Homo sapiens: one gene and its partners. The protein of the gene in region 1 interacts with the protein of each later gene in a pairwise test. Each region holds a gene or a part of one and is shown in the gene's direction. Other genes may lie near its edges. The genes, in order: ALAS1, CDC73, PPL and MTFR2.

Region 1 (7,832 bases):
AGGTGTGGCTGCTCTACAAGGCTCTGAGTGACCATGACATCTACCTGGAAGGCACCTTGCTGAAGTCCAATATGGTCACCCCAGGCCATGCCTGCATCCAGAAGTTTTCTCATGAGGAGATTGCCATGGCAACTGTCACAAGCACTACACTCTGGGGAATAAGCGGCCTAGAAGGATCACAACTGGGCCAGAACAGGGCCCACCCAGACTCATCACTGAGGCAGGTGGGGTCATTCTCACTTCACAGACACAAAAACTAAGTGCTGCACTGCACAGTGTCCCCCACTGTCCCTGGGATCACCTTCCTGTCTGGAGGCCAGAGCAAGGAAGTGTCCATCAACCTCAATGCCATTAACAAGTGCCCCCTCCTGAAGCCCTGGGGCCTGACCTTCTCATATAGCTGAGCCCTGCAGGCCTCTGCCCTGAAGGCCTGGGGCAGGAAGAAGGAGAACCTGAAGGCTGTGCAGAAGGAGTATGTCAAGTGAGCCCTGGCAGATAGCCACGCCTGTCAAGGAAAGTATACTCCAAGCGGTCAGGCTGGGGCTGCTGCCAGTGAGTCCCTCTTCATCTTTAACCATGCCTAGTAAGCGGAGGTGTTCCCAGGCTGCCCCCCAACACCCCAGGCCCCATCCCCTCCCACGCTCTCTTGAAGAGGGGGACTCCTCTTCGGGGCTCCAGGCTGGCTTGCCCGCGCGCTTGCCTCCCTCGTGACAGCGGTGTGTGTTGTCTGTGAATGCTAACTCCATCACCCTTTCTAGCACATTGCTAATAAACAGCTATTTAAGGGAGAAAAAATAAAAATAAAAATAAAAATAGTTCCTGGGGCCCAGAATAAAAAGGGGGAATTCTAGGGGCTGGGGTTGACATTTTCCTTTTGCCTTGACCATTGGGTGGGTACTATGTGCAGCAGCCCCGGACGGTGATAGTGATGGTAATGATGACCATGATGCAGACTGGGTGGGAGGGAAAAAAGTCCCCAGCGTCATCCCTGGGATGGGGCCTGACCTTGCCTCAACTCCAGCTGCCCAGGGCCAGAGCGAGTGATAAGATGAGTTTATACTGTAGCTCTGAGAAGGAAGGGAGGGAGGGAGAAGGAGGGAAGGAGGGAAAAGGGAGGGAGGGGTAAGGGAGAGAGAAAAAGGGAGAGAAAGGGAAAAGAAGATGGGGAAGGAGGGAAGGACAAGGGAGGAGTGAGAGGCGAAGAAGGAGAAGGAAAAGAAGAAAAAGAAAGAAGAAGAGGAGGAGGGGGCGGAGGGGAGAAGAAGAGGCCCCGAAGGATCACAACTGGAGCAGAATAGTGCCCACCCAGACTCATCACTGAGGCAGATGGGGTCATTCTCATTTCACAGACACAAAAACTAAGATTTAAGGCATGAGGCAATTTGCTCAAGATCTCAGAGTTAGGACTAGAACTCATGGCTTATGCCTTGCTCTTCAAGGTCTCAAACCTTGAACCACTCAAGAAACATATTCCAAGATACCTCACCCTTACCTCATCAGAAAGGGGAGCTGGTTAAAATGCAGATTTCTGGGTCAAAATCAAAGGTGTGTGGCACAGGAATCTGCATTTTGACCGGTACCCTGGGGGTGGTTCTTTGGGCCCTGACACTGGGAAACCCCGTGGCTCATTTAGGGCCTTTCTGGTCTGACCTCTTGGCGTCAGGTCCTGACCATACTCCCGTTGCCCAGCTATTTGGGCTGACTCACGCTGACCCCCCAACCGCCACCCCCACAGGGCTGAGCCTTTTCCATCCAAGGCTTCACCCACAGTCTCCCAGTCGCATGTAGATCCACCCTTCCAACCAGCACCCGCTTCTCTTCTGGAAGCCTTCCTCGTGGTTGGGATCCTCCTCTTTCAGCGCCTGTTGGAGTAATAGCCTCCTCCTCTTCCTCCATCTGGAGTTGCTTACAACACTCTATTTCACTTTCCATGTGAGTCGGCCTTGTTTCCCAATCTTTCTCTATATTAAACAGGAAACTCCCAGAGGGCTAGGGACTGGCTGGTTTAAACAATAAGCCTCTGAAATACAGGACTTCACCTGACCCTCCTGCCAGCCACAAGTGGCAGGGCGGGAGAGCTTTACAAATCAGGAAACCAAGCCTTGAAGAGGTTGTGGCCTGCCCAAGTCTATGGCCAAGTAAGATTCAGAGCTGGGTTTGAAACCCATGCCCAACTCCACTATCCAGTTCTTTCTGCTTTGGCTTTGGCTCTGATCACCCCCAAAAAAACCCTATGAGGGCCAGGCGCAGTGGCTCAAGCCTATAATCCCAGAACTTTGGGAAGCTGAGGGTGATCACTTGAGGTCAGGAGTTCAAGACCAGCCTGGCCATCATGGTGAAACCCCATCTCTACTAAAAATACAAAAATTAGCTGGGCGTGGTGGTGTAATCCCAGCTGCTCAGGAGGCTGAGGCAGAAGAATCGCTTGAACCTGGGAGGCAGAGGTTGCAGTGAGCCGAGATTGTGCCACTGCACTCCGGCCTGGGCAACAGAGGGAGACTCTGTCTCAAACAAACAAACAAAATAACAACAACAACAAAAACAACCTGTGAGGCAGGCATTTCAGGGATTATGATCCTATTGCCCAGATAAGGAAAGCAAGGCCCAAAGATGAGCAAAGCACTCAATATCATCCTTATTCTGTTCCCACTTCCAGCTGCACTTGGGTCCAAGTCCAAGTGCTGACCTTTTCTCTCTCATCTTCTCTGGGTGATGGGCACTGCCCAGGATCTCTTGGCTGAATGGCACAGAACTGGGTCTCGAGCTCTCAGACCAAAGCCCTCATCCTGGACTGGTCCCACTGCCACTCTGAACCCAGGTGCCTCCTCTGAAGGTGGAGACTCACCTCACCTGCCTTGCAGCCAGCTGGGTGCTCAGAGACAGAAATGCAAAGTACCTGGACACACCCTGGTCACCATCATTCTGGACTTTGTCCCTCTTGTTAATGCTCAGCTGGGAAAGGAATACCCTCAAAGGCCCTTTCCTCAAGAATGGAGGAGAGTACCTCTGAGCCTGGCACAGGCCCAGCCCAACACAGCCCAAGCCAAGCTGGGAAGGGTGTGGGGCAAGGAAGCCAGACTGACATTCCTGAGACGGGTTTGCCAAGCCCTACACTTTATGTGTTGTACCCGGGAAACTCAATGGAGGTATGGCCCAACGCTGACCTTTGGCATGGAGGCCTAAGCCACCCTGCTGGTGCCCAGGGTGGCCAGCAAGGGGCTTCAGACAACCCTGGATGGAAAATAAAAATAGTGGCTAATATTTGTTACACGCTAACTATTGTCAGGCCCTGTGCCTTCCCCTCCTCCCCAAGTGCTCAGAGCTGTGGAGTGGATGGGTTCCACCCTAGCCCTGTTCCTCTGTCCCCTCTGGATCATCTTAGACCAGAAAGTGCCACAGCTGAGTGTCCCGCTTCTTCCGCATCCTGCCAGGACCACTCCATTTGTGGGCGATATAGCCAGCTCCACCTCCTCCGGGAAGCCCTTGTTCACAGTTTCCAAAGCAAGCCGCAGGCGGGATGGATCCTGCTTAACACCCCGGCCCAGAACCCCTTGGATCTCCTTCTTCCTCCATGTCCAAGACACCCAGCTTAACAACCCTGTAGCCCCCAACTTGGCCCTAGCGGCACCTCGCCTCGACCTTGCCATTTTATACTCAATTGGGGCGTAGGGTTCTGAAGCCCAGGGTAGTTGGTGGGGAGGCAGCACGAGGGTGCAGGATGAGGTCGGGAAAAGAGACCTCGTCCGCCCACCGCCTAGCGCTTCCTCCTCCCTGCAGGCGAGCCGGGGAATCCCCGGCAGCACCGATATCCGCAGAGCCCAAGAAGTGGGCCTCTCTGCCCCGCCCCCCCGGCTCGCCGAGGGCTACGCGGCGCGCCTGCGCAGAAGAAGGCAGCGCCCAAGGCGCATGCGCAGCGGTCACTCCCGCTGTATATTAAGGCGCCGGCGATCGCGGCCTGAGGCTGCTCCCGGACAAGGGCAACGAGCGTTTCGTTTGGACTTCTCGACTTGAGTGCCCGCCTCCTTCGCCGCCGCCTCTGCAGTCCTCAGCGCAGGTGAGGGCCCGCGCGGTAGGTGCGGCGCCGGCCGAGGAAGCCCCGGGGTGTCCTGCCAGCCGTGGCACCGCTGCCCCGGGTGCTGGGACCCCATCCCCCACTGTCCCAGTCACCCGCCGCCTTGAGGTCAGCGTTTATCCTCCAGATCTTTTGCCTAGACGGCCGCCTCAGTTTCCCCCTTTCGGCCCCTTCCGGCTATTCCCGGTTGAACCCGCCGCTTTAGAATTCCCTTCTCATACCCCTCCCGTCATTCTCGAGACCTCGACCGCGGGTCACCTCTGACCCCCACTGCCGGAGGACTGCCTTCTTTCTCCAGACTCAACTCCCTCGACTTTATAAGCCCCTGCGCGTCCCCAGTGAGGCCCAAGGCGCTGGCCCTCATACCCCTACCCTCATTTGTGCCCCTCCTTTCTCAGTTATGCCCAGTTCTTCCCGCTGTGGGGACACGACCACGGAGGAATCCTTGCTTCAGGGACTCGGGACCCTGCTGGACCCCTTCCTCGGGTTTAGGGGATGTGGGGACCAGGAGAAAGTCAGGATCCCTAAGAGTCTTCCCTGCCTGGATGGATGAGTGGCTTCTTCTCCACCTAGATGTAAGCCAAGATGTCTTATCTGCACTGTGCATCTCCCTAAGAAACCTCTGGCCTCCCAAACCTGTTCTTGACCTTTCCCTCATCCTTCCGCCCCCTTGATTATGTACTGTCAGTATTCATTTGGTGAAGTTGCTTTGCAGGTGCCTTTGTGTAGCGCTGGAGAATGAAGAAGTTGGTGACCCGGGTAAAGTGTGGTCACCATTCCTTAGCTCACATCAGTGCTGTCCTTAGGCATTTTTGAGGGAGAAGTGTTAGTATTCCAGGGTACCCTTTATATAAACTGCGGTTGACACCTGAATCCAGTGAGCTTGCAGTGATATTTGCCTGATTATTAACAACTGTTGATGTCACTCTTCATCAGTCTTTCCACAGGAGCCAGCATACTTCCTGAACATGGAGAGTGTTGTTCGCCGCTGCCCATTCTTATCCCGAGTCCCCCAGGCCTTTCTGCAGAAAGCAGGCAAATCTCTGTTGTTCTATGCCCAAAACTGCCCCAAGATGATGGAAGTTGGGGCCAAGCCAGCCCCTCGGGCATTGTCCACTGCAGCAGTACACTACCAACAGATCAAAGAAACCCCTCCGGCCAGTGAGAGTAAGTGTCATTGACAATGAAGGAGCAGGTATGGGTGTTTGTGCTCATTGGTAGACTAGAAGCAGTCCCCACAGTGGTGGTGAGGGTCACACTCACTCACAGAGGGCTGCTATGTGCAGGCTGGGCTCTGAGCACAGATTATCTCATATGATTGTCCCCCCAAGGGTAGGCACTTTTAGCTTTTCCATCTTTAAAGGTGAAACAGTGGCCAGTGTTGCACATTACAGGTTTTTGGATTGCACGTTAGTGTCTATAGGGGTTTTAGTGTTTCCTCAGTGCCTCGTTCACATAAATATTAAATTGGAATGTTCTAATTTCCCTCATTAAACATTTAGCCTTCTAATTTCCCTCATTAAACATTTGGCCTTCGGCTTTTTATTTATTTAATTTTTCTTTTTTGAGACTGAGTCTTGCTCTGTCGCCCAGGTTGGAGTGCAGTGATGCAGTCTCGGCTTACTGCAACCTCCACCTCCCAGGTTCAAGTGATTCTCCTGCCTCAGCCTTCCAAGTATCTGGAATTACAGGCATGCACCACCACGCCCAGATAATTTTTGTACTTTTAGTAGGGTTTCACCTTGTTGGTCCGGCTGGTCTCAAACTCCTGACCTCAAATGATCCACCTGCCTCAGCCTCCCAGAGTGCTGGGATTGCAGGCGTGAGCCACCGTGCCCGGCCCCTTTGGCTTTTTAAAGTAGTGATTTTTTTTTTCTTAAAAGTTTTTGTTCTGTTGTGGTAAAATGCCCAAGAAAAATTACCATTTTAAGCACTTAAAAATGTGCAGTTCAGTGGTACATTCATATTGTTGTGTCACCACCACCATCCATCTCCAGAACTTTTTTCATCTTCCCAAACTGAAATTCTATACCCATCAAACAGTAACTCTCCATTCCTCTCTCCCCAACCCCTGACAACCACCATTCTGCTTTCTGTCTCTATGAATTTGACTATTCTAGGTACCTCATATAAGTGAAATTGTACAGTATTTATTAGTGATTTTTAAAAACAAATTTATCTTGGCTGTGTGCAGTGGCTCACTCCTGTAATCCCAGCGCTTTGGGAGGCCGAGGTGGTTTGATCACCTGAGGCCAGGAGTTCGAGACCAGCCTGGCCACATGGTGAAACCCCACTGTTACAAAAAATACAAAATTAGCTGGATGTGGTGGTGTACGCCTGTAATCCCAGCTATTTGGGAGGCTGAGGCATGAGAATTGCTTGAACCCGGGAGGTAGAGGTTGCAGTGAGCTGAGATCATGCCATGTATCTTTATTTGTATATACATTTGTTGTTGTTGTTTTTAACAAAGAGACTAGAGTTGAATTTAGTTTGCTCTGCTTCTGATAGGAGAGAACAAAGCTTTTCAGGTTCCACTTAATCCCAGAGAATATTTTACAGGTTTTTCTTAGGCGTGTTCTCTGGGTGTGGGCTTGTAAGAAAATAAGTTTTTTTTTTCTTTAAGCAGAAAGGATTTAATCCTTTGTAGGGTTTATTTTCAAGAGTTAGTTACGTCTTTTTTACCAAAATGCTTGCAATGGCTATGTTTTAAATGATAGGATTTTTTTCTTTTTCTAGACTTTAATGAATATGTATTACTTTTATAATAAATGAAATTAACTTCAAAATAATTTTTTTGGCCTTCCGTTATAGAAGATTTTAATGAAAACTGTATTGAGACACTTTACCCAAGTTATAGGAAAGGCTAGCCAGTGACTCACAGGAGTGTTCCAGAATGATGAAGAAAGACTTTTCTAGAAAGAAGGTGAATGAATTTGCTCAAGGGGAGAGGGAAGTCACTGTAGCTAGAAGGATAATTACCAGCCAACGGTGTTTAGTCAGCAGACTTTGATGAATTTAGATGAGAAAGTAGATGAGGTATGTGAATGTGATATACCCCTATTTTTTCTTACTTTATTAGCAATCTAAAGACCTAAGTCTTAGTCTAATTTCTGTTGTTTAGATGAAAACCAATAGCTTTTATGTTAAGCAACAGCAAGCCTCTTTGTCAAGAATCTGTTTAGAAAATGTCAGCAGAGACAGGATGTGGTGGCTCATGCCTGTAATTCCAGCACTTTGGGAGGCTGAGGCGGGAGGACTGCTTGAGCCTAGGAGTTTGATAGAAGCTAGGGCCACATAACAAGACTCCGTCTCTACAAAAAATAAAAAATAAAAAGAATTAGCTGGGCGCAGTAGAACACCTGCAGTCCAAGCTACTTGGAGAGCTAAGGTGAGAGGATCACTTGAGCCTGGAGGTCAAAGCTGCAGTTAGCTATGATTGCACCATGCACTCTAGCCTGGTTGACAGAGTGAGATCCTGTTTCAAAAAAAAAGGAAAGGAAAATGTTAGCAGAGAAAAAAATGTGTGTGAATATTTCCCGTTACCTTACAGAGTGTGTCCTCTCATAAAATAAGCTGAGTGTAGTTGGGGTAGAAATTACTGGAAATGATCCAACTCAAGGATTCCGGGTTGTCTAAAACTAGAAAATGGTACTTTTTTTGGATTTATGACGAGAAATACTGTGGGTTTAAGAGGCAACTGGAATGTGCCAGTTAACTCTTCATAGACGCATTGTTTCCTGTGAAGCAGATGAAAAACTAG
Region 2 (7,874 bases), on another chromosome or scaffold:
TGTTTGTGTGAGGATAGATTCTCTCGGTATTCTTTGACCAAATAAGATAGCACATTTATGACCAAATAAGAAAGCACAATAAATGTCGAATGTAGAAGCTGATCTGAGAATACAGCTGTCTTCTATTAAGCCAGAGATTAAGGAAATTTGCAAAAATTTAAAACCTGCCACTCTTTCTTGTCATTACTTTTATGCATTTTGAAAAGTGATTTTTCATGAAATATGCTATTATGTTTACATGGAATCTTGTTTTCTTATTTTTAAAAGAATTTAAATTTTTTTCAATTTTAATCTTTAATTCAATAGATACTGTAGTTCACACAAACTTAAAGCTCTTTGGGGTGCTCAGTAATTTGTAAGAGTGCAAAGGGGTCCTGAGACTTATATTTGCTGCTCCAGAGAATTATAGGAACTAGTTAGCACTGCAACTGGTATAGTGATAATAGTTATGTTTCAAGCAGCCTCTCATTTTATATACATATTTATTTGTATAGTATTTATTTAACATCTACAAACTAGGCAAGTGCTAAACACTGACCAGAGGTGCATTGGTCCTAGCTCTCACAGAAGTTATACTCTTCAGCAGAAGTCAATATTAAATAAGCGGTAATTATTACGTACATTATAGGGCAGACACCCAGCAAGGGCAGTTAACTTAGTTGAGAGTAAAGAGGAGTGATACCTAAAGAACAAAAACTAGTGAGGGAGGTGAGAGGGGTAAGGTGGGAAGAGTGGTCCCAGCCAAGGAAACAGAATGCCTTGTTTAAAGAAGAGAAATTATGTTGTATTTGAGGTTCATGAGGGCAGCGACCATGTCTTTTTTGATCATCATTGTACCCAAGTGCCAAGCAAGGTGTTTGGCTTAGAGTAGATTCTTACTACATATTCCTTCAAATGTTAAGTGATTGATAGGCAGCATAAGAAGAGCCCCAAAGGAACTGTCAGACATTAGGGGTAAAACCAAGAGAGAGTAGCATCTCAGAGGCCAAGTATCTTTGTCTGTTTTGTGCTGCTGTGGATATCACAGACTGGGTAATTTATGAAGACAAGAAATTTATTTCTCATATTTCTGTAGGCTGGGAAATCCAAGAGCATAGCAGTGGCATCTGGTGAGGGTCATTTCATGGCAGAAGGCAGAAGCAAGCAAGCAAGCAAGCAAGCAAGCAAGCAAGCAAGCAAGCAAATGAGACACAGAGAGAAATGGGGCCAAACTTACTCTTTCGGGAATCCGAGCCCACTTTTGCAATAACAACATTAATCCATTCGTAAGGGTGGAGCCCTATGACCTACCTAATCACCTCCTAAAGGCTCCACCTCCTAATACTATTAGAATGGAATAAAATTTCAACATGGGTTTTAGAGGAGACATTCAATCCATAGCATGAAGGAAGAATATTTCATGAAGGAAAGAGTCGTCAGATTAGTTAGCTGTGTTGACTTTTGATCAGCATGTAATTGCATTGTGAGTTGAAGAGCATTTGTACTTGTACTTTCCAACTTACACATCTTTGAAAAGTGTACATTGACTTCTGATAGTATCTCAAAACTCATATGTAGCAATCTGAAATTAGCACTGGAGTTTAACAGGAGGATGTAGTAGTTGATTATTTTTTTTTCTGAACTAGAAGCCTCTTTTGACAAATGTATTTATATTTTATTTAGATTTTTTTTTTTAGACGGATTCTTGCTCTGTCTCCCAGGGTGGAGTGCAGTGGCGCTATCACGGCTCACTGCAAGCTCCACCTGCTGGATTCACGCCATTCTCCTGCCTCAGCCTCCCAAGTAGCTGACACTATAGGTGTCCACCACCACGCCCAGCTAATTTTTTGTAGTTTTGGTAGAGACGGGATTTCACCGTATTAGCCAGAATGGCCTCAATCTCCTGACCTCATGATCCACCTGCCTCTGCCTCCCAAAGTGCTGGGATTACAGTCACGAGCCACCGTGCCCGGCCTTATTTAGATTTTAACTTGCTTTCTGGTTATATATTTGAACAGATGCAGAATATGAATACATTTGTAGCAGTTTTTTTTTTCTTTTTTTTTTTTGAGATGGAGTCTCGTTCTATTGCCCAGGCTGGAGTGCAGTGGCATGATCTTGGCTCACTGCAAACTCCGCCTCCCGTGTTCACACCATATTCCTGCCTCAGCCTCCCGAGTAGCTGGGACTACAGGCACCTGCCACCACGCCCAGCCAATTTTTTGTATTTTTAGTAGAGACGGGGTTTCACCTGTGTTAGCCAGGGTGGTCTCCATCTCCTGACCTCGTGATCTGCCTGCCTTGGCCTCCCGAATGTAGCAGTTTAAGTAAAATGAAAATGATGAAATGAATACCATGGGATTTACAATAATCAGTCTCTGGATCAATATCTTAGTAGTGGTTGGTTTTTACATATGTGTATAATAATGATACCTTATGACATATGTAGTAGGGAAGAATCGATAGTAAGATAACTTAGTCTTAAATTATCAACTAAATTTACTATTGTATATTTAAAGTGGGCTTAATTAAAATCCATTTATATTTTAGAATTTTTCCAAGAACATTTTTGCAATTCTTCAATCTGTAAAAGCCAGAGAAGAAGGGCGTGCACCTGAACAGCGACCTGCCCCAAATGCAGCACCTGTGGTAAGAATGCTTTACTGCTTTACAGTAGATTTAATGAAGTTGCCACTTATATTGCAGTGTAGTAACGTTGAAGACATCTTCACATTTTAAAATCAGTGGATTCTAAACCTTTTGCTCCTTTAGCATATCTGAAAGATGTGAAAGCCCTCCCCAACATTAAAAGTTACTTACTTCAGCAGTAATTCTTAACTGGAGCAGTAATTCTTAATATACCTGGGTCAGAGTCTGAAAAAGGTTAATTAGGGAAAGCCCTCTATTTATTTTAGGTAAACTGTGGCTGGCCTACTCATTGTTGCTTGGGACAATTGCTAACCATTGTTAATAACATAAATCCCTGTTAACTCCCAGTTTGGGGTTCTTTTTGGCATTGTATCTATTACATCTTGGTGAATGTATTTCTCTTGATCACCAGCCATGCTGTCCTTTAATTGTACCTCCATTTCAGCTGCTCTGAGAGTTGACTGCCTTCTCTTTGAAGTGCCACTTAAGACCCTCCCAAAGTAAATTTCACGTATGACATATAGCCTATATTTAAATTCAAACATCCTCTAATTTTGTTGAAAATCCTTCCAGCTATTTTCATATGATTCAACAAAGGAATAAAACATACAAATGAAATTGTTTCTATTTTCTGCAATAGAAAATAGAAGATTCTATAAATAGAAAATTTATAATTTTTTTTTTTTTTTTTTTTTTTTTTGAGACAGTCTCACTCTGTTGCCCAGGCTGGAGTCAGTGGCACGATCTTGGCTCACTGCAACCTCCGCCTCCTGGGTTCAAGCGATTCTTCTGCCTCAGCCTCCCAAGTAGCCAGGATTACAGGCGCATGCCACCCCACCCAGCTAATTTTTGTATTTTTAGTAGAGATGGGGTTTCGTCCTGTTCAAGACCAGGCCGGTCTTGAACTTCTGACCTCAGGTGATCTGCCCACCTCGGCCTTCCAGAAAACCTTCTATATTTTTAAAACTCTGTTTCAAGTTTTAAAAGGCACATTGAAATGTATTAGAGTACTAATACAGCCTTTGCAACTACTTTGTAGTAGTTTTATTTGCTCATGAAATTGTTGGAATTTAACTTTTAAAGATGGTAGGCTTTTGTTGATAATTAGATAAATACTTTTAGTTGACTCTCCATCAAGTACTTAAGTGCCTTCTATTAGGAAGTCTGCTAATGATCTTGAGATACAATAGTGAGAAAGATTATAGTCCCTACTTTCTTTGAGCTTATAGTCTAATACAGCAGTCCCCAACCTTTTTGGCACCAGGGACCAGTTTCGTAGAAGACAGTTTTTTCATGGACCAGGGGGAGGTTTTTGGAATGAAACTGTTCCACCTCAGATCCTCAGGGTTTAGTTAGATTCTCAAACGACCATGTAACCTAGATCTCTCAGCAGTTCCCTACTTATTAGATGTTTTTTTTTTTTTAAAGTAGTGGAGTAAGAGCTATGATGGCAAAGCACAAGGTACTTAGAATTATGAATTTGTTGACATTTTGAATAGCTGTTGATAGGAAACATGTCAAACCTTAAAACAGTTTTACCATTTGTGACTGATTATTCTTTCTGTATATTTATATAATCGTTAGAATACTTGAAGGTTTTAATGTTTGGCATTTGACTATAGAAGTATATGCCTAGTGTGAAGTAAGCATATACTTATCATTCTTGATAGGTATTGATAAGTATATTTTATTTGGCATAATATTTGATATAGAATCCTATCATAATAAAATGAAAAGTATTTCAGTCTTCATGAATTTTCCAAGTAGCTTTGGGAATATTCCTAAATATGTGTTTTTAGTTTGTTAAACATTGTGAGTTTTGATAAAGTATTTGTGATTAAATAATGCATCATTAGACTGACAGCCTTTTCTAATTATTTAAAAAAAATACGTCTTCAGTCTTACTCTGTTTATAATGGATTAATCATCATGGCTTTCATGTTTATTTAAGGATTAATAATTTGGGTTTTTTTGTTTTGTTAAAACAATCATAATTGCAGGGAAGAGTATTATGTCGTAAAGGTACTTTAGCCAGGTATGGTGGCTCATGCCTGTAATCTTAGCACTTTGCGAGACTGAGGTCGATCACCTGAGGCTGGGATTCAAAACCAGCTTGAGCAGCATGGTGAAACTTTGTCTTTATAAAAAAAAAAAAATTAGCTGAGTGTGGTGGTGCATGCCTGTGGTCCCAGCTACTTGGAAGGCTGAGGTGGGAGGATCACTTGGGCCCAGGAGGTCTTGGCTGCAGTGAGCCATGGTCATGCTACTGCACTCCAGCACATTAAATAAGTGACATTTAAAAATATTAACAAGTAACTCATAATTAATTTTTTTACAGGATCCCACTTTGCGCACCAAACAGCCTATCCCAGCTGCCTATAACAGATACGATCAGGAAAGATTCAAAGGAAAAGAAGGCAAGTTGCTTAATTCTTATCTTCCCCTTAGTGTGGTTGTGTTGAACTTGAGAGGCAGTGTGGCCTGATGTTTAAGGGTAAGGGTTGGCAAAGTAATGTCTACAGACCAGATCTTACCCACTGCAATTTTTCTTAAATAACATTTTGTTGGGACACAACCACACTCATTCATTTATGTATTTTATATATGGCTGCTTTGGCTTTGTGACATCAGTATTGAATTGTTTCAGTAGAGACTGTGTAGCCTACAAAGCCTAAAAATATTATCTGGCCCTTTACAGAAAAAAAGTTGGCCAACCCCTGGTTAATAGCATGGATTCTGGATCCAGATAGCTTATGTCGTAGTAACTTTTTGTGTGAATTTTAATGTTACTTTAACTGCATTCTGCCTTAGTTTTCTCCTGTGTATAATTAAAATGTTATTATAGTGCCTGTCTCTTACCATTATTGTGAGTATTGGACTGGTTAATAAATATTGAATTCCCAGAATAGTATCTGATATGTAAGTAAATTATCTATAAATGTTTGCTGTTATTCATACTGCTTTTGTTTTTATATAATTTAAAGTAGAGATTCTATATGTTAAGTCATTTTTCCCAAGTTATAAATGTGTATGTACATTGAGAACTTGGAAACAAATTTTGAGCAATGATGGGAGGACTTACTTTGTGATAGTCTACGTGGTATTCTGGCTAATGCAATAACACCATTTCTGCAGTTGTGAGGTGAGACTAATGTCAGTGTAACTTCCTCTTGGGATCTTCATTCATCATGACTTGATTCATGAAAATATTAGGTAGAAGCAACTGGAAGTTAATGATATTTTTAAGCATAATCTGAAATCTTCATTTAAGTTTTTTTTAAATGATATGTTGCCTTGATGCAATGAATTTTGTGTGCTGACTTCATTCAGTTGTTAAAGGCATGCACTGGATATGTGCCATAGAAAGACTACGTCCATTCTTTCATTATAATATTCAATGTTTTTCTTGAGGAATGAATTATATAAAGCAGAGGTTGATAAATTACAGCCCCCAAACTAAATATCACCCTCCATGGGCCAAATTGGGTTGCCCCCAATTGATCACATATATTGTTTATTCTGCTTTTGCACTAAAATACAGAATTGGGCAGTTGTGACAGATTTTAAGGCTTGCAATGTGTTAAAATATTTGCCTTTACAGAAAGGCATATTGGGATTCTGTCCTGGCACTCCAATCATTATTTACAACATTGCTTTCTATAAAATATGTAATATGGTTGATTGCTGTAGCTCACACCTGTAATCCCAGCACTTTTGGAGGTGGAGGCAGGAGGATTGCTTGAGTTCAGTACTTTGTGACCAGCCTGAGCAACATGGCAAAACCGCATCTCTACTAAAAATACAAAAAAATACCTGGGTGTGGTGGTGCATGCCAGTGGTCCTAGCTACTCGGGAGGCTGAGGTGGGAGGATTGCTTGAACCTGTGGAGGGGGGATGGGAGAAGAGGTTGCAGTGAACTGCAGTGCCACTGTACTCCAGCCTAGGTGACAGAGTGAGACCCTGTCTCAAAAGAAAAAATATATATGTATGTATGTATATAAAAATAAGTATATGCCTTATGACTGAAACTTTGGAACACTACTTTTTATAACTTTGGGTCTTTTCATGGTATTAGATGCTTTTAGTGGTACTATCATTGAGTATTAGTAGTAAGTAATTTGGGGTTATAAAGTATTCAATCTTAATTTTTGAACATAATTGCAGAGATAGTCTTAACCAGCTTCTATACAATAGGCTTGCTGGTCTGTATTTAATATATTAATATTTTTTAACCTAGAGTCCTTTTTAAAGTTTTTATCTTCACAAGTACGTAATTTAATTTTACATAGTAGATTCAAGGCTTTGTATATTATTGAACCATCACATTCAATGTAGATTATTACTTTAGATTTGTTATAGGTCATAAGATACATGATCTATAAAATCTTAACAATAAGCCTCTTTTTTTTCGTAGAAACGGAAGGCTTCAAAATTGACACTATGGGAACCTACCATGGTATGACACTGAAATCTGTAACGGTAAGTTAATTTGGCTGTAGATGTTCTTTTGTTCCAGGGATTTTATGTGAGTAGCACATGTTGAAGTAAATCTTTAGTCTCTCATATTTTTTATTTCAAACATTTTTCTTTATTGATCACTTGTGCTGATTGATCTGTGTGGTGTATTATTTGATTCATGGGTATCCTGTTTCATTTTTCTTTTCCTTCAAATTAAGTTGAATATATGTAAATAAAAGCTGATTTGATTAACTTGCAAGTAGGGCAATGCCACCTGGTCAGTATTTAAAGCCTTTAAGTTATGAGGTCAGTTTGGGAGAGCTTTTTCGCATAATATCTTTTGTTTTTATTTTTATTTATTTATTTATTTTTTTGAGACAGAGTCTCGCTCTGTCGCCCAGGCTGGAGTGCAGTGGTGCGATCTCGGCTCACTGCAACCTCCGCCTCCCGGGTTCACGCCATTCTCCTGCCTCAGCCTCTGCGAGTAGCTGGGACTACAGGTGCCCACCACCATGCCCAGCTAATTTTCTTGTATTTTTAGTAGAGACGGGGTTTCGCTGTGGTCTGGATCTCCTGACCTCGTGATCGCCCGCCTCAGCCTCCTGAAGTGCTGGGATTACAAGTGTGAGCCACCGTGCCCAGCCTTGTTTTTAACAATGTAATGTCTTTCGCTCTTTAAAGAGATGGATTATAGTGATTATAATGCTTACAAAGTATGTAATTAACAGAACTAAATACTTGGGTATCTGTGAATATAAGCCTTTGGTTCATGTTTAGCAAACTTTCTT
Region 3 (8,080 bases), on another chromosome or scaffold:
AGCTACTTGGGAGGCAGAGGCAGGAGAATCACTTGACTCCAGGAGGTAGAGGTTGCAGTGAGGCGAGTTCGCGCCACTGCACTCTAGCCTGGGTGACAGAGCAAGACTCCATCCATCTCAAAAAAAAAAAAAAAAAAAATGGCCAGGCGCAGTGGCTCACGCCTGTAATCCCCACACTTTGGGAGGCCAAGGCGGTGGATCACTTGAGGTCAGGAGTTCAAAACCAGCCTGACCAACATGGTGAAACCCCATCTCTACTAAAAATACAAAATTAGCTGGGCGTGGTGGCACACACCTGTAATCCCAGCTACTTGGGGGGCTGAGGTAGGAGAATGGCTGGGAGGCGAAGGTTGCAGTGAGCCAAGATCGCGCCACTGCACTCCAGCCTGAGCAACGAGAGTGAAACTCCATCTCAAAAAGAAAAGAAATTCAAACTTCTTTCTTGTCCTTTTTGGGGAGATTCAGCAACGGTTTCTCATGTATCCTTCCAGAAGTTTTTTGTGCATAGACAAGCATGTTACACACCACACACTCTGTCTTTCCCTCTTTCTTTTGCACTTTGCATCTGGCACTCCACTCCATGTTAGTCTACATATGGTCTCCACATCTGCCCCTTTTCCAGCTGCAGGGTCTTCCTGGTGTAGGCAGCCCTGGTTACCGGACCATCCCCCTCCAAATAGGCAGCAGTTTCTTTACAGAGCTTCTCCATTAGCAACTGTGTTGCCAAAAGCATCCCAGGATGCACACTTAGTACAAGGTCAGCAACACTGCTGCAGTGACCATCCTCAAGGCATGCTGAGCCCGGAGTAAGAGCCCACCTGTGGGGAAAGGTATGGGGAACGAGAAAGGAGAGGGTGTCCAGGCATAGGCAGACCAGGGGGCGACAGCAAGGACGCACAAGTTCCCTGGGAACCCCTCTTGGGGTATGGGGAAGGGGTCTGTGTGCTGAGCCAGCTCCATGTTGAGTTCAGGCTTCTGCGGGTGCAAGGTGACTCCCCGCACACCTGTGTTCTGAAACCCCAGCTCCTCTCTAACACCTGCTCCCAATATCAGCTGGCTGGAGGAAGCATCCCTTCGGGGCCCTGAGATCTAGGCAAGGAAGTCACTTTTGGACGAGGGAGGGCATTGTCATGCCCTTACCTGCCAATGAGAAATGCCCACCTGGGGGCGGCACCCGAAACTGAGCCAGGCAGAGCCGAGTTGGGGAAGGACTGGGTTTGCTGGGGAGGTCTGTTCAGGGCTGTCTGCCTGAGCAGCTGGGAGGCTGCACACACTGAGGCCTCAGACCACCCAGGGAAGCTTGTCCAGATTTCAGATTCTTAGGCCCCTCCCTCTTCAGACCCCCCCAATCAGGATGTCAAGGGTCCCAGGGCCCCAGAATATGCCTTTTACAAACTCCTGTAGAGATTCTAAGGTGCAACAATGTTAGAACCACCGCCTCTCCCAGGGTCTTTCTCCCCCATATGTCCCCAGACCCCTTCAAGGAGTTCACAATTTGGCCGGCGCAGGGACTGACGCCTGCAATCCCAGCACTTTGGGAGGCTGACGCAGGTGGATTGCTTGAGCCTGTAGGAGTTCAAGACCACCCTGGGCAACATAGTAAGAGCCCATCTCTACAAAGAATTTTAAAAATTAGCCAGGCGGCCGGGTGCAGTGACTCACACCTGTAATCCCAGAACTTTGGGAGACCAAGGCAGGCAGGTCATCTGAGGTCAAGAGTTTGAGCCGTCTCTACTAAAAATACAAAATTTAGTTGGCCATGGTGGCACGTGCCTGTGATCTCAGCTACTCGGGAGGCTGAGGCAGGAGAATCCCTTGAACCAGGGAGTCGGAGGTTGCAGTGAGCCGAGATTGCACCACTGCACTCCAGCCCGGTGGTAGAGTGAGACTCCTTCTAAAAAAAATAAATTAAAGGCCGGGCGTGGTGGCTCACGCCTGTAATCCTAGCACTTTGGGAGGCCGAGGTGGGTGGATCACAAGTTCAGGAGATCAAGACCATCCTGGCTAACATGGTGAAACCCCGTCTCTCCTAAAAAATACAAAAAATTAGCCAGGCGTTGTGGCGGGCGCCTGTAGTCCCAGCTACTTGGGAGGCTGAGGCAGGATAATGGCATGAACCCAGGAAGCGGAGCTTGCAGTGAGCCGAGATCATGCCACTGCACTCCATCCTGGGCGACAGAGCAAGACTCTGTCTCAAAAAAAATTAAATAATTAATTAATTAATTAAAAAAATTTAAAAAGGCCAGGCACAGTGGCTCACAGCTGTAATCCCAGCACTTTGGGAGGCTGAGGCAGGCAGATCACAAGGTCAGGAGTTCAAGACCAGCTTGGCCAACATGGCAAAACTCTGTCTCTACTAAAAATACAAAAATTAGCAGGGCGTGGTGGCAGCAGGAGAGTTGCTTGAATCCAGGAGGCAGAGGTTGCAGTGAGCCGAGAGTGTGTCATTGCACTCCAGCCTGGGCGACAAGAGCCAGACTGTCAAAAAAAAAATAATAATTAATTAATTTAAAAAAAATTAGCCAGGCATGGTGGTGCACACCTGTGGTCCCAGCTACTTGAGAGGGAGGCTGAGAAGAGACAACGGCTTCCGTCTGGGAGGTCAAGGAAGGCTGCAGTGAGCCATGATCACGCCACTGCACTCCAGCCGGAGCAACACAGCAAGACCCTATCTCCAAAAAAAAAGAAAGAAAAAGAAAAGTTAACGTGTTTTTGTTTTTGTTTTTGTTTTTTGACGAAGTCTCACTCTGTCGCCCAGGCTGGAGTGCAGTGGCACGATCTCAGCTCACTGTGACCTCCCAGGCTGGAGTGCAGTGGCGTGATATGAGCTCACTGCAACCTCCCCTTCCCAGTTTCAAGAGATTCTCCTGCCTCAGCTTCCCAAGTAGCTGGGACTACAGGCAGGCGCCACCACGCCCAGCTAATTTTTTATTTTTAGGAGAGACGGGGTTTCACCATGTTGGTCAGGCTGGTCTTGAACTCCTGACCTCAGGTGATCCCCCTGCCTCGACCTCTCAAAGTACTGGGATTACAGGAGTGAGCCACCGCGCCCATCCAAGTTAACATTTTTAATATGTGTCCCCTGCCCCGGGACCTGAAAGCTCCCAAAGAGAAAGCCCCTTTTGTGTTGTTCTTTTCCCTTTTCTCATCCGTGTACAACAAGCAGAGCCAGGCACACTGAGGCTGTGAGAGTGATGGGAAACATGTGTTGAATGAGTAAATGACTCCACTGAGCAATACATCCTCCCCCAGAAAAATGCACATTTGGACACACACATTTTGAAAGCAACTTTAGGGCTGGGTGCAGTGGCTCACACCTGAAATCCCAGCACTTTGGGAGGCCAAGGTGGGAGGACTGCTTGAGCCCAGGAATTCAAGACCAGCTTGGGCAACACAGCGAGACCCCATCTCTACAAAAAACATATATAAATATAAAGGTTTTAAAAATTAGCCAGGCGTGGTGGTGGACACCTGTGGATCCAGCTACTCGGGAAGCTGAGGTGGGAGGATTGCTTGAGCCCCAAAAGTCAAGGCTGCAGTGAGCTATGATTGTGCCAATGCACTCCAGCCTGGGCAACTGAGTCTCAAAGAAGAAAGAAGAAAGAAAGCAAGAAAGCAAGAAAGGAAAGAGAGAGGAAGGAAAGAAGGAAGGCAGGCAGGCAGGCACAACTTTAGGAGGAATCACACCTCTATTTACGCCTAGTGGTCCATTATTGGAACGTGACGCCTGTGGGAGTTATCTCCTACTGCTCAAGGTCACTGCCAAGGTATGATTTATCAATTCAAAAAATTGCAACCTCAGGCATAAATGGGTTAAGCCCACCCATAGAAGCCCCATTAAGAATAAGGTTGGCTGGGCACGGTGGCTAATATCTGTAATCCCAGCACTTTGGGAGGCTGTAGGCCGGCAGATCACTTGAGCACAGGAGTTCAAGACCAGCCTGGGCAACATGGTGAAACTCTGCCTCTACAAAAATTTTTAAAAATTAGCCAGGTGTGGTGGTGTGTGCCATCCGGGCTTCAGGTCAGATTAGGTTTCTGTCTAAGGGCAGCCTCCTCCACTGGCACACAGTCTGGGCCAGGACATGCTGGCAGAATTGTGCAACGTCGTTGTTCTGAGCCGCAATCGAGCAGCTTTTATGACCAGCTATGAAGCGCTCTTCTAGTGCCAGGGCCTGGAGTTATTGAAGTTTCAAAGGAGTTTTTGTCCACCCGAGATGGCAAGCGGAGAGCAGATTCAGGCCAGGGCACTGCGCTCAGCGCTTTGCGTGCATTACCTGCAGGGACATCCCCACAGGCCTTTCGGATGGGGTGGTGGTTATCACCGTTTGACAAAGAAGTAAACTGTGGCTGGGAGCAGTAAAACACCTTGCCCAGGAGTGTCAGCCAACCTGGGGGTGGCAGGGCTTGAACTCAGGCCGGCGCCCTCGGCAGTTCAGCCCCCTTCCCTCAATTGCCACCATCTGAGTGCAATTCGCTAGCTACTAGGGCACATGAATCCGTGCGGGTCTCTGCCGCACCTGTCTTGCGGGGCCCAGCTGGGTGTCCGCCAAAGCACCAGGAGCGCCGAGTTCCGCGGTAGCGCAGAACCAGGTGAAGGCCTCGGCCAGAGGCGCGCCGGGCCCGAGGAGGGTGGGGCTGCGAGCGCTCGCCCCGGCGGCCTTTGCGCCCCAGTGCCTGCCCGGCCTCCGGAGTCCCCCGGCTGGGGGTGGGCGGCGTCCGGCCAAGACCCAGTGTCCCCACCCCCGCGTCCAAGCCCCGCCCGCGCGGTGGCCCCTCCTCGGGAAGGTAAGCACCACCTTCTCGGGGAGCGGCCCGCAGAGCCAGTGGCCGGCGGGCGCCCCGCCCCCAGCGAGTAGGGACCCGGAGCCACTGCCGCGCCGCAGTCCGGGCTCCCCGCGCCGCCGCTCGCTCACCTGCGCTCCCGCCCGCCCCTCGGTGCGCGCCCGGCCCGCCAGCCGCCGCCGCCCGCACCCCGAGCGCCACCATGAACTCGCTCTTCAGGAAGAGAAACAAAGGCAAATACAGCCCCACTGTGCAGACCCGGAGGTGAGGAGGCGCCCACAGCTCCGCTCCGGGACGCTCTTGCCCCTGTGGGCGCACAGGACCTGGAAGACCTCCCGGGCAGTGTAGGAATGGGGGGTACGGGGGTCCAGGAACCGGGAACTGAACCCGGAGTGCGGGACTCTCGGGAACGCGGGACCGAGGCCACCCTGAAGCTGGGAAGCGCCGCCAGGTGGGAAGGGACTGGCTGGGGTCCCCGAGGGGGAGCATAACACAGGGGACTCCGGGAGCCCAGGGAGCATTGCCTTGAGGGCCTAGGGCACGGGCAGCTGAGCTGGGGGTACAGGGCACCCCCGTGTCCCAGGGTCGCTCTTGCGCAGAGGGTCGCACAGGACCGGGAATAGTCACCTGGATGAGGGGGCGGAGTTTTTGGAGGACCGGGCACTCAAGGCGGGGTCGCTGCGGGCGACCCAGGAAGCTCCGTCCAGGGGGCGCCCTGAGGCAGGGAAACTGAGCTGGCGTCGGGGGGCGCTCTCCAGCGCCTCTGAGACCGCGCAAGTGTTCCTGGCGTCGGGGAGGCGAGGGATGGGTGTCCGGAGGGGGCGGGCCACCCGCCGCTGCACTTCCCGGCACCTGCCACCCTGCGCGCCAGAGCCGCGCCCGGAGGCCCTGGGGGGTGTGGGGTCGGGTCGAGGGGCACAGGGGGAGGCACCCCCTTACCTCCCCACCCTCTGGGTTCTGAGCGGAGGTTGGGCGGCTTCGGGGCCTCCTCTTCGAAGCTCGGTTTCGCAGGGGTGTGGCTCCCTGCCCCCACCCCAGCCCCGAAACTGGCGGCGTCTCTGAGCCGCGGGTTCCCAGGGCGGCCTGGGAGGGGAATGGCATGTCTTGATGTGTTTGCAGGGAGAAGCAGCCCACGTCCCTTTTGATAAGCCTAATGTGTTCACTTAATAACCGGTTTAGGGGAGCCTGGTGGAGATGCTGAGATTGACGGAGGGGGTGGGAATCCAGCCCCTGCCTTATATCCCCACTTCGGAAAATAGAGTGGGGGCTCTGGGCTAGCAAGGACCATTTTGCCAGCTTCTCGGACAAGAGGCTTCAGGCAGGTGAGGGGCCCGCACATTACATGGCTCTCCTGTCTGGGAGTTCTGCCCCCAAGCTGCTCTCACTGGGAGCCCCCACTGTGCCCTCAAGCAGCTCCTCACTTCTTCCCTAGGCAAGGAGAGGCCTCTGGGCCCAGGGCTCCCACTCAACCCCTGCAGTCCGGCCTAGGCCGACCAGTCGGACAGGTGCAGGCGGCGGGGCCCTAGCACGCTGGAGTGCGACACTCCATTCCGGGGCCTTCCAGCCCTTTCAGAAACCCCCCTGCCCTGTGATCCCACCCACCCGTATCTCCGTTTGGGCTCTTTCAAGCTCAGAGGCATTACCCGCCTTTAGAGATTTCCCCACCCCTCCCCTATCTTTCACAACCCCAGAGACTGGGCAGGGCCTGCACACCCCTCCTCCATGGCTGCGTCCAGCTGGCACTCAGACCCAACCAGAGGCCCGTCCAGTCCCTGCACTGTTCCCTGGGGCATTGCACAATTGGATGCTCCGTGCCAGCCGTGGAGAACCGTTCTGTCCTCTCCACCCCAGAGACTAGACCCATCCAGTCCTTCACACATGCAGACACCCACATACCAGTGGTGGGGCCAGGCCTCGCCCCGCCCTCTGCCTCCTCCCAGCCTCCCTCCTTCGTGCAGCTCTCCATCCTGAAGGCCCCAGCTTGGACCTAACAAAAGGTTCTAATGAACCCAGACAAGCTGGGAGGGGTGCGGGCTTTCCCAGAAGCATGAGGATGAAAGGCATCCCATCCTTTATAGCTGCAGGGACTGGGAGGGTCTGGGGTGGCAAAGATTTGGGGTCCTGCCACTCTCTGTATATCTGGCCCAAGGCAGCCACGGTCTGTCCTAGGCTGATAGCCATTGGTCCCAGATCTCCATTTAGACGTCTCTTTCTCCAGGAAGCCCTCCTGATTCTCTCCCCAGCCTGGGGTGCAAGACCATTCCTTTGAGCCTTGCCACCCCAGCACAGAATGAGCACAGCCACAGCCCTGAGCAGATGTCAGATGCCTCCCCGGGTGGTCTCCAAGCCCAGTGCATCCCTCTGCCCCCTCCCCTTAGTGGGGACTAGTTCGCAGACTGGATTGTGGGGTGGGGGTAGCCCTGTACCCCATCCTCTCAAACGCATCTCTTGAACATTGCCTGATGCCCAGCCAGCCCCATAGCAAGTGTCTTGGTGGGGGGGTGGAGGGGACAGACTTGCGGCTCTAGGCTGTGGTCGCTGGTCACAGGGAGTGGATCCCCAAGTTATTCCTTCACTCTGAGTTTTCCAGGGGCCCGCTCCATTGTCTGGGGGAGGACAAAATTGCTGGTGAGATTCAGCATGGGGGGCAGTAGGAGCTCCAGCACTGAGAGCAGAATGCCTCACTGTTGATCCTGGCATCTCCACCCTGGAGCCTCTCGAAGCCTTGTTTTCCCTTTCTGCACAGCACGGGTGGTAATACTGAGTGTCTCATGCATAGGGCTGCTGGGAGGAGCAGTGCTGTAGCACACAGGAGGTGCCCGGATGAGGGTAGCAGCCCTTTCCGAGCCCAGGGGACCCAGGAGCCCCAAGTGGTGACTTTCATACCCAAGGTAGTCAGGCCTTTGGACTACAAAGTGTGGATTAGTGAACGGAACACCCCACCGAGAAAGCCACCCCTTCCAGTTTGTCTGCCTTTTAGCAGCTGAAGCTGGGGAGGGCCGGGACAGGGTGTGAACCCCGTTGCTCCCGTTGCCCGGGTTCCTAATGACAGGTGTGGGAGTTGATGTTCACACCTGAGCTAATGACAGAGTCAGGCCAGATGGTGCAGGTGACCGAGGACAGCCTCCAGCCTAGTAGAGAGGCCCTGGAGGAGACCCGCTGCCACCCTCCTGGCTGTGCGACCTCAGAGGAGCTGCTTGGCTTCTCTGAGCCTGTTTTCTCACCTGTGGGATGGGAATAAGCACGGTGCCTGCCTGGCGATGTTGGCTCAGGATTAAATGAAATAATGCAGGGG
Region 4 (7,874 bases), on another chromosome or scaffold:
GTTAGAACATATAAGTAGAAATATCCTTCAGACAATTGGATATATATATGGTTTTAGTATGTAGGAAAGAAAAAGATTCAGTTTTGGGAGTTATCTGCTTTGTTTTGATATTTAAAGCCATGGACTTCGATAATGGCAAATGTCATTAGATGTGATTGAAACATTCTAAATATCAGTAATCGAGAGACTGAAGATAACAGCTGAACATTTGTTTATCACTATTAGGTTATTGGTGACCTTAAGAATTTCTGTAAGTGGAGAATGGGACTGTGTTGGAGTAGTTTGAAGAATATCAGGAAGGGAGGTGGGATCAGCAACCTTCTTTTGAAAAGTTTGCTTGTGAAAAGAAATTGAGAGAGGCCATCAGCCTGAAGGGGCCGCAGGATGGAATTTTTCTTTTTCTTTTAAAGTTAGAAGTAACTTCAGCATATTTGTCATCACTCTGGAAGAAACAGACAGGAAGAAATTTAAGATCCACATGAGAGAGGATTGAGCACCGCCTTTGAGAAGGTAGTTGGGCAAGGGATCTAATTAAATAAGTCTTGGAAAGGAGAGAGACTGTCCTGCCTTAAAGAACAGAATGAAAGTGAGAGAGAGTGAAAAGAGATTTTTTTTTTTTTTAAGATGGAGTCTTGCTCTGTTGCCCAGGCTGGAGTGCAGTGGTGCAATCTTGGCTCACTGCAACCTCTGCTCCGAGGTTCAAGTGATTCTCCTGCCCCAGCCTCCCGCGTAGCTGGGATTACAGGAGCCTGCCACCAATGCCCAACTGATTTTTATATTTTTAGTAGAGATGGGGTTTTACCACGTTGGCCAGGCTGGTCTTGAATTCCTAACCTCAAGTGATCCACCTGCCTTGGCCTTCCGAAGTGCTGGGATTACAGGCGTGAGCCCCTGCGCCTGGCCTGAAAAGAGATTTTGAATGGAGCTAAGTAAGAGAAGTGAAGTTGAGGTATGTCAAGTTGAAGTTCTCGGTTTTCTCAGTAAGAGCAGAGACAAGGTCACTTGCAGGTAATGAAGTGGTGGGATTTGAGAAGGGATTTCAGAGATTGGAGACTGCTCTGGGCAATGTGGTATAGAATGTAACATGTTATGAAGGGATTTCAGAATACCTGTGAGAACCCAGCTGAAGTCATCATGGAATTGTAGTTTTTCTAAATATTGTCGTTTTGTGATTTTTTTTTCCTAGCTAAGAGTAATTACAGTAGTGTATTCATTAGCAGTGTGGGAGCACATAATATCAAAAGAATGAACCATTTTTGAGTGGCATTGAACATATTACTGAAATAATTAACCAGAAAATCCATGCTTGGTAGGAAAATTAGTAAAGTCAAAATGTGGGTACTAGACCAGGAATAGAGGGAAGATGAAATAATAAGAATGGTGAAGATGGCCAGATGTGGTGGGTCGCCCCTGTAATCCCAACACTGTGGGAGGCTGAGGCAGGCATATCACTTGAGCTCAGGTTTTCAAGACCAGCTTGGGCAACATGATGAAACCTCGTCTCTATAAAAAATATAAAAATTAACCAGGCATGGTTGTGTGCACCTGTGGTCCCAGCTACTCCAGAGGCTGAGGTAGGAGGATTGCTTGAGCCTGGGAGGTGGAGGTTGCAGTGAACCCTGATCATGCCCTGCACTCCAGCCTGGGTGACAGAGTGAGACCCCATCTCAAAAAAAAAACCTCAAAAAGCAAACAACAACAACAACGAAAATGGTGAAGATGGCCAGGGGCAATGAAGGAATGAGAGGAAGGACAAGAGTTTATTAGGATGGAAACTGCCGAGCAAGATAGGAAGGTATCATTTAAATTAACTAAGAACTAACCCAACTCTTGGGTGACTGTATATGTCATAGGTAGCCGTCATGGTAGCAAAGCCTCTATGCCTGTTGTTCTTAGCAGGGGTACGCAGATGAATGGTCTGTAGAACACTTTAAATATAAATGCTCAATCCTCCAAATATTCTACTAGTAATAGGTCTGGGATCTATATCCTCTAGGCTGTGCAATCCAGTATGATAGCCACTGGCCACATGTCACTTTTAAGTACTCAAAATATCTGAATTGAGATCTTCTATAGGTGTAACCTATATAAGGGATTTTGAAGACTGAGTGTGAAAAAAATGTAAAATAATCTTAGCAATTTAAAAATATTATCGGTTGAGCATCACTCAAAACCTGAAATCTGAAATGCTCCAAAATCCCAAATGTCTTGAGTGCCAGCATGACACCACAATGGGAAAATTTTACACCTGACCTCACATGATGGGTCACAATCAAAACGCAGGTGCACAACCCACAGTTTATTTAGCCTGCTGTTGTTAGTTGTTGCTGTTGTTTAACAGCTGAGACCGGCGGTTTATTGGTTGTTTTAATGAGGATGCTAATAGGTGGCTACCTATATCAGTTGGGATCTTAGGAAAAATGTCCAATTTATTATATCACATCTTTTGGCTGGTGGGGGAGAGTGGTTCCTGTGGCAATGGTTTACACTAATTTGGGAAGCCCACACTAAAGGATGAAGTATTATTTGAGCTATAGTAGCACATTATTACTTCTAATGCCTTTTCAAGAGCTGACTGCCAGCAGATATATTTCACTTTATGTAAATAACTCTGAATTGTCTAGGACCTGATTTATTTATTCCCTTTTTTATTTCTCCTTTAAAGGAAATTACATAAGTATACTCCATATTACGTCGTTGCTTGATAATTTGAAATTGTCTATTTTTGGTTGGGCCAAAAAGATGGGATTTGTAGCTGGGGGAGGGGATGCAATTTTTTTGAACAAAGTTTCTCCCAAGGTATTGGACATTATCAGAAATAGAACAAAATGAATTGTGCTTTTTAAAAGATCTTCCTGGAATGTATATATGTTTACTACCATCTCTTTTTAAGACAAATACTCACAAAGTTCTATTCTTTGAAGAAAGGCTCTGCCATTCTATATTTCTTTTTAAAAATAAATGTTATTTTACAGGACTCCCTGTATTAAAAAAAAAATGCCACTGCGTCTTTTTTGTCTTTTTTACATCTCCTTTTTTCATACTTATATAAATATGCTTAATCAGAGTGCATTTTAATTCATACTTTATGTTTAAAATAGGTTTTGCTGATTTGGGAAAATAAAGACTATGGATCAACTAGGAGTATTGTTCGTATTATTGGGAAAATGCTTCCACTGGAACCTTGTCGAAGACCTAATTTTGAGGTAAGTCAGTCAACATAAATTGTTTAAGTACCAAGTACAAAATAATCCTAGGTACTCTTACAGGTATGGGGTAGAACAACAAAGGAAGAAACATTTCCTGCAAGCCAAAAACCTGTAGTTTACCCTTGGGAACAAGCCATTTCATATATGTTTTTGTGTTTTTGTTTATTTAAATACAATCATGCATCGTTTAATGATGGGGGGATACATTTTGAGAAAAGCGTTGTTTGGTGATTTTGTCATTGTGCAAACATCACAGAGTGTACTGGCACAAACCTAGATGGTATATGGCCTATTATGCACCCAGGCTATATGGTATGACCTGTTGCTTCTAGTCTGCAAACCTTTTCAGCATGTTACTTTACCGAATACTGTAGGCAGTTGTTACACAATGGTAAGTGTTTGTGTGTCTAAACATAGAAAAAGTATGGTAACAATGCAGTAAAAATTAGATAAAAAATGTTACGTCCGTATAGGGCACCTACCATGAATGGAAGATGGGAAGTTGCTCTGGGTGAGTCAGTGAGTGGTGAGTGAATTTGAAGGCCTAGGACATTACTGTACACTACTGTAGACTTTATAAACACTGTACACTTAGGCTACACTAAATTTATACAAAAACCCTTTCTTCAATAATACATTAACCTTAGCTTACTGTAACTTTTTTTATAAATGTTTTTATTTTGTAAAAATTTTTGACTCTTTTGTAATAATACTTATCTTAAAACACACATTGTACTGCTATACAAAATATTTTTATATCCTTATTCTATAAGCTTTTTATGATTTAAAAATTTTTAAATTTTTTATACTTTTAAAATTTTTTTGTTAAAACTAAGACACAAGCACACACGTTAGCCTAGGCCTACCCAGGGCAGAATCATCAATATCACTGCCTTCTACCTCCACATCTTGTCCTACTGGAAGGCCTTCAGTGGCAATAACATGCATGGAGCTCTCATCTCCTATAATAACAATACCTTCTCCTGGAATACCTCCTGAAGGACCTTCCTGAGGCTGTGGTATAGTTAACTTTTTTTTTTTTTTTTTAAGATAAGGTCTTGCTGTCGCCCAGGCTGAACGAAGTGGAGTCGCGTGATAACGGCTCACTGCAGCCTCAACCTCCTGGGCTCAAGTGATCCTCCCACCTCAGCCTCCTGAGTAGCTGGGACTACTTGGGAGGTGTGCACCACCACACCTGGCTGACTTTTTTTTGGTCTGGTAGAGACGGGATCTTGCTATGTTGCCCTGGCTGATCTTGAACTCCTGGCCTTAATTGATCCTCCTGCCTTGGCCTCCCAAAGTGCTGGGATTACAGGAATGCACCACCATGCCCAGCCAACTTTTCTTTTTAAGTAGAAGGAATACACTCTAAAATAATAATAAAAAGTATAATATAGTAAATACTAGGTGATAGGAATATTTCAGTTTCATCATAATCTTATGTGACCCCATGTATATGCAGTCCATGATCGACCTAAATGTTACGTGGTACATGTCTGTAATGACATTCACAGATGGGCAAGTGTGAACAATAACTGAAGAGCTTAATTTTATTTTGCATTTTGTGATAGATGAAATTAACCAGGGGAGAGAATATTGCTTAGTGCTTAGACTTCAGCATAACATTTTCCCCAGTGTTCTTTCGTGCTAACAGGTACATGTTTTTCTATTGAATATTCTTTTTATTTTTCTTTCTTTTGGATTGTTAACTAATTTAATACCATGGGGCATGTGTCTTCTCCTGACTCCCTGCAGAGCTCTGACTATTTTTTTCTTTTTTTACTTTAGTTGATCCCGCTCTTGAACTCTGTAGACTCTGATAATTGTGGATCTATGGTTCCATCTTTTGCTGATATTTTGTATGTGGCAAATGATGAAGAAGCCAGTTATCTCAGATTTCGGTAATTTTATATGCTTATCTTGGGAAGTGGGCTATAAACTGAATTCTTGCATGTGTCGAAGCTTGTTAAGATTGATTGAGCTTTTTTGTTTTGTTTATCTTCAAACTGTGCTGTGCCCTACTGTATCTTCTTAATAAAGAAGACTGGCTGCTTTTCATTTTTTTAGCCAGTTGTTTTTTTTTTAGTGCACATTTAAACCTAACACCAGGCCTAGGAGGGAGTGGTTATTAAAGGGATATTAGAATCATGTTTTTAGCCAAAACTTATATACTGTTTACTGTGCACCAGGCAATGATGTTAAATGTATTTCAAAATTTGGATGTGTTACTCCTAGGGAGTATTACTTTATATGTTAGTATATTCAGATACAGGCTCTAAGCACATTAAGTGTCAATTATTTAAGTATTCCGGCTGATTTTATTATGTATCAAACTGGCACCAATTTTCAAATAGTTAAAATAACATACATTTCACCCTAACATAATCCTGAATGTAAGGCTCTTTATTAACTTATATAGAACTTCTAAATAAATTAACTTACCTGCGTTTAAAGTTAATAAGTAGAACAATTGCAGGTAATTATTTTGGTTTTATAATCTAAAAGCAAAGTTTGTTTTGTTCATTCCCTGGTCACTGACTGGTCCTCCATTGGAGGCTATGTTCTGTTTATATTGGGAATACAAAGCTAAATAAGATATTTTCCTTGTCCTCAGTGGTGACTCTAGAAACAATCATGGGGGATAGAGAGTAGGTTTTTTTTTTTTTTTTTTTTTTTTTTTTTGAGACAGAGTCTTACTCTGTCGACCAGGCTGGAGTGCAATGGCACGATCTTGGCTCACCACAACCTCTGCCTCCCAGGCTCAAGTGATTCTCCTGCCTCAGCCTCCTGAGTAGCTGGGACTACAGGGGCACGTCATCACACCGGCGAATTTTTAAAAATATTTTTAGTAGAGACAGGGTTTCGCCATTTTGACCAGGCTGGTCTCGAACTCCTGGCCTCAGGTGATTCACTGCCTCAGCCCCCAAAGTGTTGGGATTACAGGTGTGAGCCACTGTGCCCGGCCTGAGAGTAGCTTTTATTTTGTTTTATTGTCTTTTGATTTTCACGTAGGAGTGTAAGAGTTTATACCTCTTTTGATTGGAAATATATCTTCCCTCCATTTCCTATTTTTTTTCACCCACAGAAATAGTATATGGAAAAATGAAGAAGAGAAAGTGGAAATTTTTCATCCTTTGCGACTAGTTCGGGATCCACTGTCACCTGCTGTAAGACAGAAAGAAACTGTGAAAAATGACCTGCCTGTAAATGAAGCTGCAATTAGAAAAATAGCTGCCCTTGAAAATGAGCTGACTTTTCTTCGCTCTCAGATTGCAGCAATTGTGGAAATGCAGGAACTGAAAAATAGTACAAATTCTAGTAAGTAACAGTAGGATTTTTGTTTCAGTTAGATGATACTCATGGTATAGCCTATACCAACCTGTACAGCATGATACTGTACTGAATATAGTACGTATAGTAGCATACAGGAACATCTAGTATTTAAGTGAGTACAATTCTGAATAAGTACCATGAAAACATTAAATGTACATAAAAGGATGTTGAATATACAAAATTATTATATCTGATGTTTATTCAGGATAAATTAAGACACATTTGTAGTGAGGGGATGGCTTTGATTTAAAGAAGAACTAGCTTTACTATACTAGAAGATTGTATTTTTGTATTAAAAAGTCTGTTGTCTTCTAAGTAAGCTTTTTTTTTTTTTTTTTGAGACGCAGTCTTGCTCTGTCGCCCAGGCTGGAGTGCAGTGGCACGATCTTGGCTCACTGCAAGCTCCACCTCCCGGGTTCACGCCATTCTCCTGCCTCAGCCTCTCGAGTAGCTGGGACTACAGGCGCCCGCCACCACGCTCGGCTAATTTTTTGTATTTTTAGTAGAGACGGGGTTTCACCGTGTTAGCCAGGATGGTCTCGATCTCCTGACCTCGTGATCTGCCCGCCTTGGCCTCCCAAAGTGCTGGGATTACAGGCGTGAGCCACCGCGCCCGGCCCTCAGTAAGCTTTTCTAACTCTTCATGAAAGCATTGGATATTAAAGAGGAAGAATGCATTGGTTTGAAAGAGGATATAGGTTTGAGGCATCATATGTTTATAGTTTTTAGTTATTGCTGCTACACTTCCACCAAGTTGAGGTGAGTCATGTTTTCCAGATGATTGTTTTATAAATTTATAGAGATACAACTTGCTTTAAACTTATGCACACACATACACACAACATGTATGTATGCGTGTATAAAATGTAAAGCAATCTAGGTACTGAATGCTTTTCACAACAGATTTGGCTGTAAAGGGCTGTGTGTAAATATAATTGCTAAAAATTTTTTAATACATATGTATATATACAAATGCATAAATACACATATAATTTAAGATATTTATACAGTGTATATTTATAACATTTACATATAAACACATTATATAATATACAATAACTTATATTTATACATAATAAATAAAATGATATATAACTATACACAGTTTTCTTAAGCAATCGTGTTTACCCACAGTCCTTTATGAGCAAATCTTAAAGTGGAAAAGTTAAATACTCAGTACCCATCTTAAGCTTTGCTTAGAAAATAATATGCTTATTTCTCCAATGTCATTATACAGTGAATACATCAATTTGTGTTTCTAACTACAAGTTGTTGATTTCTGTTTTAGCTTTTTTAAAATAGAGGATGAAGTTCAGAGTGTATGTGAATTAC

The links.
Region 2: the proteins of ALAS1 (region 1) and CDC73 interact in a two-hybrid assay, tested with the Homo sapiens proteins (3 studies listed by BioGRID and IntAct).
Region 3: the proteins of ALAS1 (region 1) and PPL interact in binary tests that used the Homo sapiens proteins (3 or more experiments, as listed by UniProt).
Region 4: the proteins of ALAS1 (region 1) and MTFR2 interact in binary tests that used the Homo sapiens proteins (3 or more experiments, as listed by UniProt).

Annotation. Positions count from the first base shown.
Region 1 is NC_000003.12:52,194,202-52,202,033, forward strand, and holds the start of ALAS1 (5-aminolevulinate synthase, non-specific, mitochondrial isoform 1 precursor), read left to right. Parts: upstream 1-3,958; 5' UTR 3,959-4,054; intron 4,055-4,470; 5' UTR 4,471-4,617; coding exon of another isoform or gene 4,618-4,647; intron 4,648-5,008; 5' UTR 5,009-5,019; coding exon of another isoform or gene 5,020-5,040; coding exon 5,041-5,239; intron 5,240-7,832.
Region 2 is NC_000001.11:193,145,338-193,153,211, forward strand, and holds part of CDC73 (parafibromin), read left to right. Parts: intron 1-2,529; coding exon 2,530-2,628; intron 2,629-4,966; coding exon 4,967-5,045; intron 5,046-7,042; coding exon 7,043-7,107; intron 7,108-7,874.
Region 3 is NC_000016.10:4,933,953-4,942,032, reverse strand, and holds the start of PPL (periplakin), read left to right. Parts: upstream 1-4,884; 5' UTR 4,885-4,987; coding exon 4,988-5,049; exon of another isoform or gene 5,050-5,135; coding exon of another isoform or gene 5,136-5,236; intron 5,237-8,080. UniProt on the Homo sapiens protein: Component of the cornified envelope of keratinocytes. May link the cornified envelope to desmosomes and intermediate filaments. May act as a localization signal in PKB/AKT-mediated signaling.
Region 4 is NC_000006.12:136,240,097-136,247,970, reverse strand, and holds part of MTFR2 (mitochondrial fission regulator 2), read left to right. Parts: intron 1-410; exon of another isoform or gene 411-510; intron 511-3,101; coding exon 3,102-3,206; intron 3,207-4,997; coding exon 4,998-5,110; intron 5,111-6,294; coding exon 6,295-6,527; intron 6,528-7,874. UniProt on the Homo sapiens protein: May play a role in mitochondrial aerobic respiration essentially in the testis. Can also promote mitochondrial fission.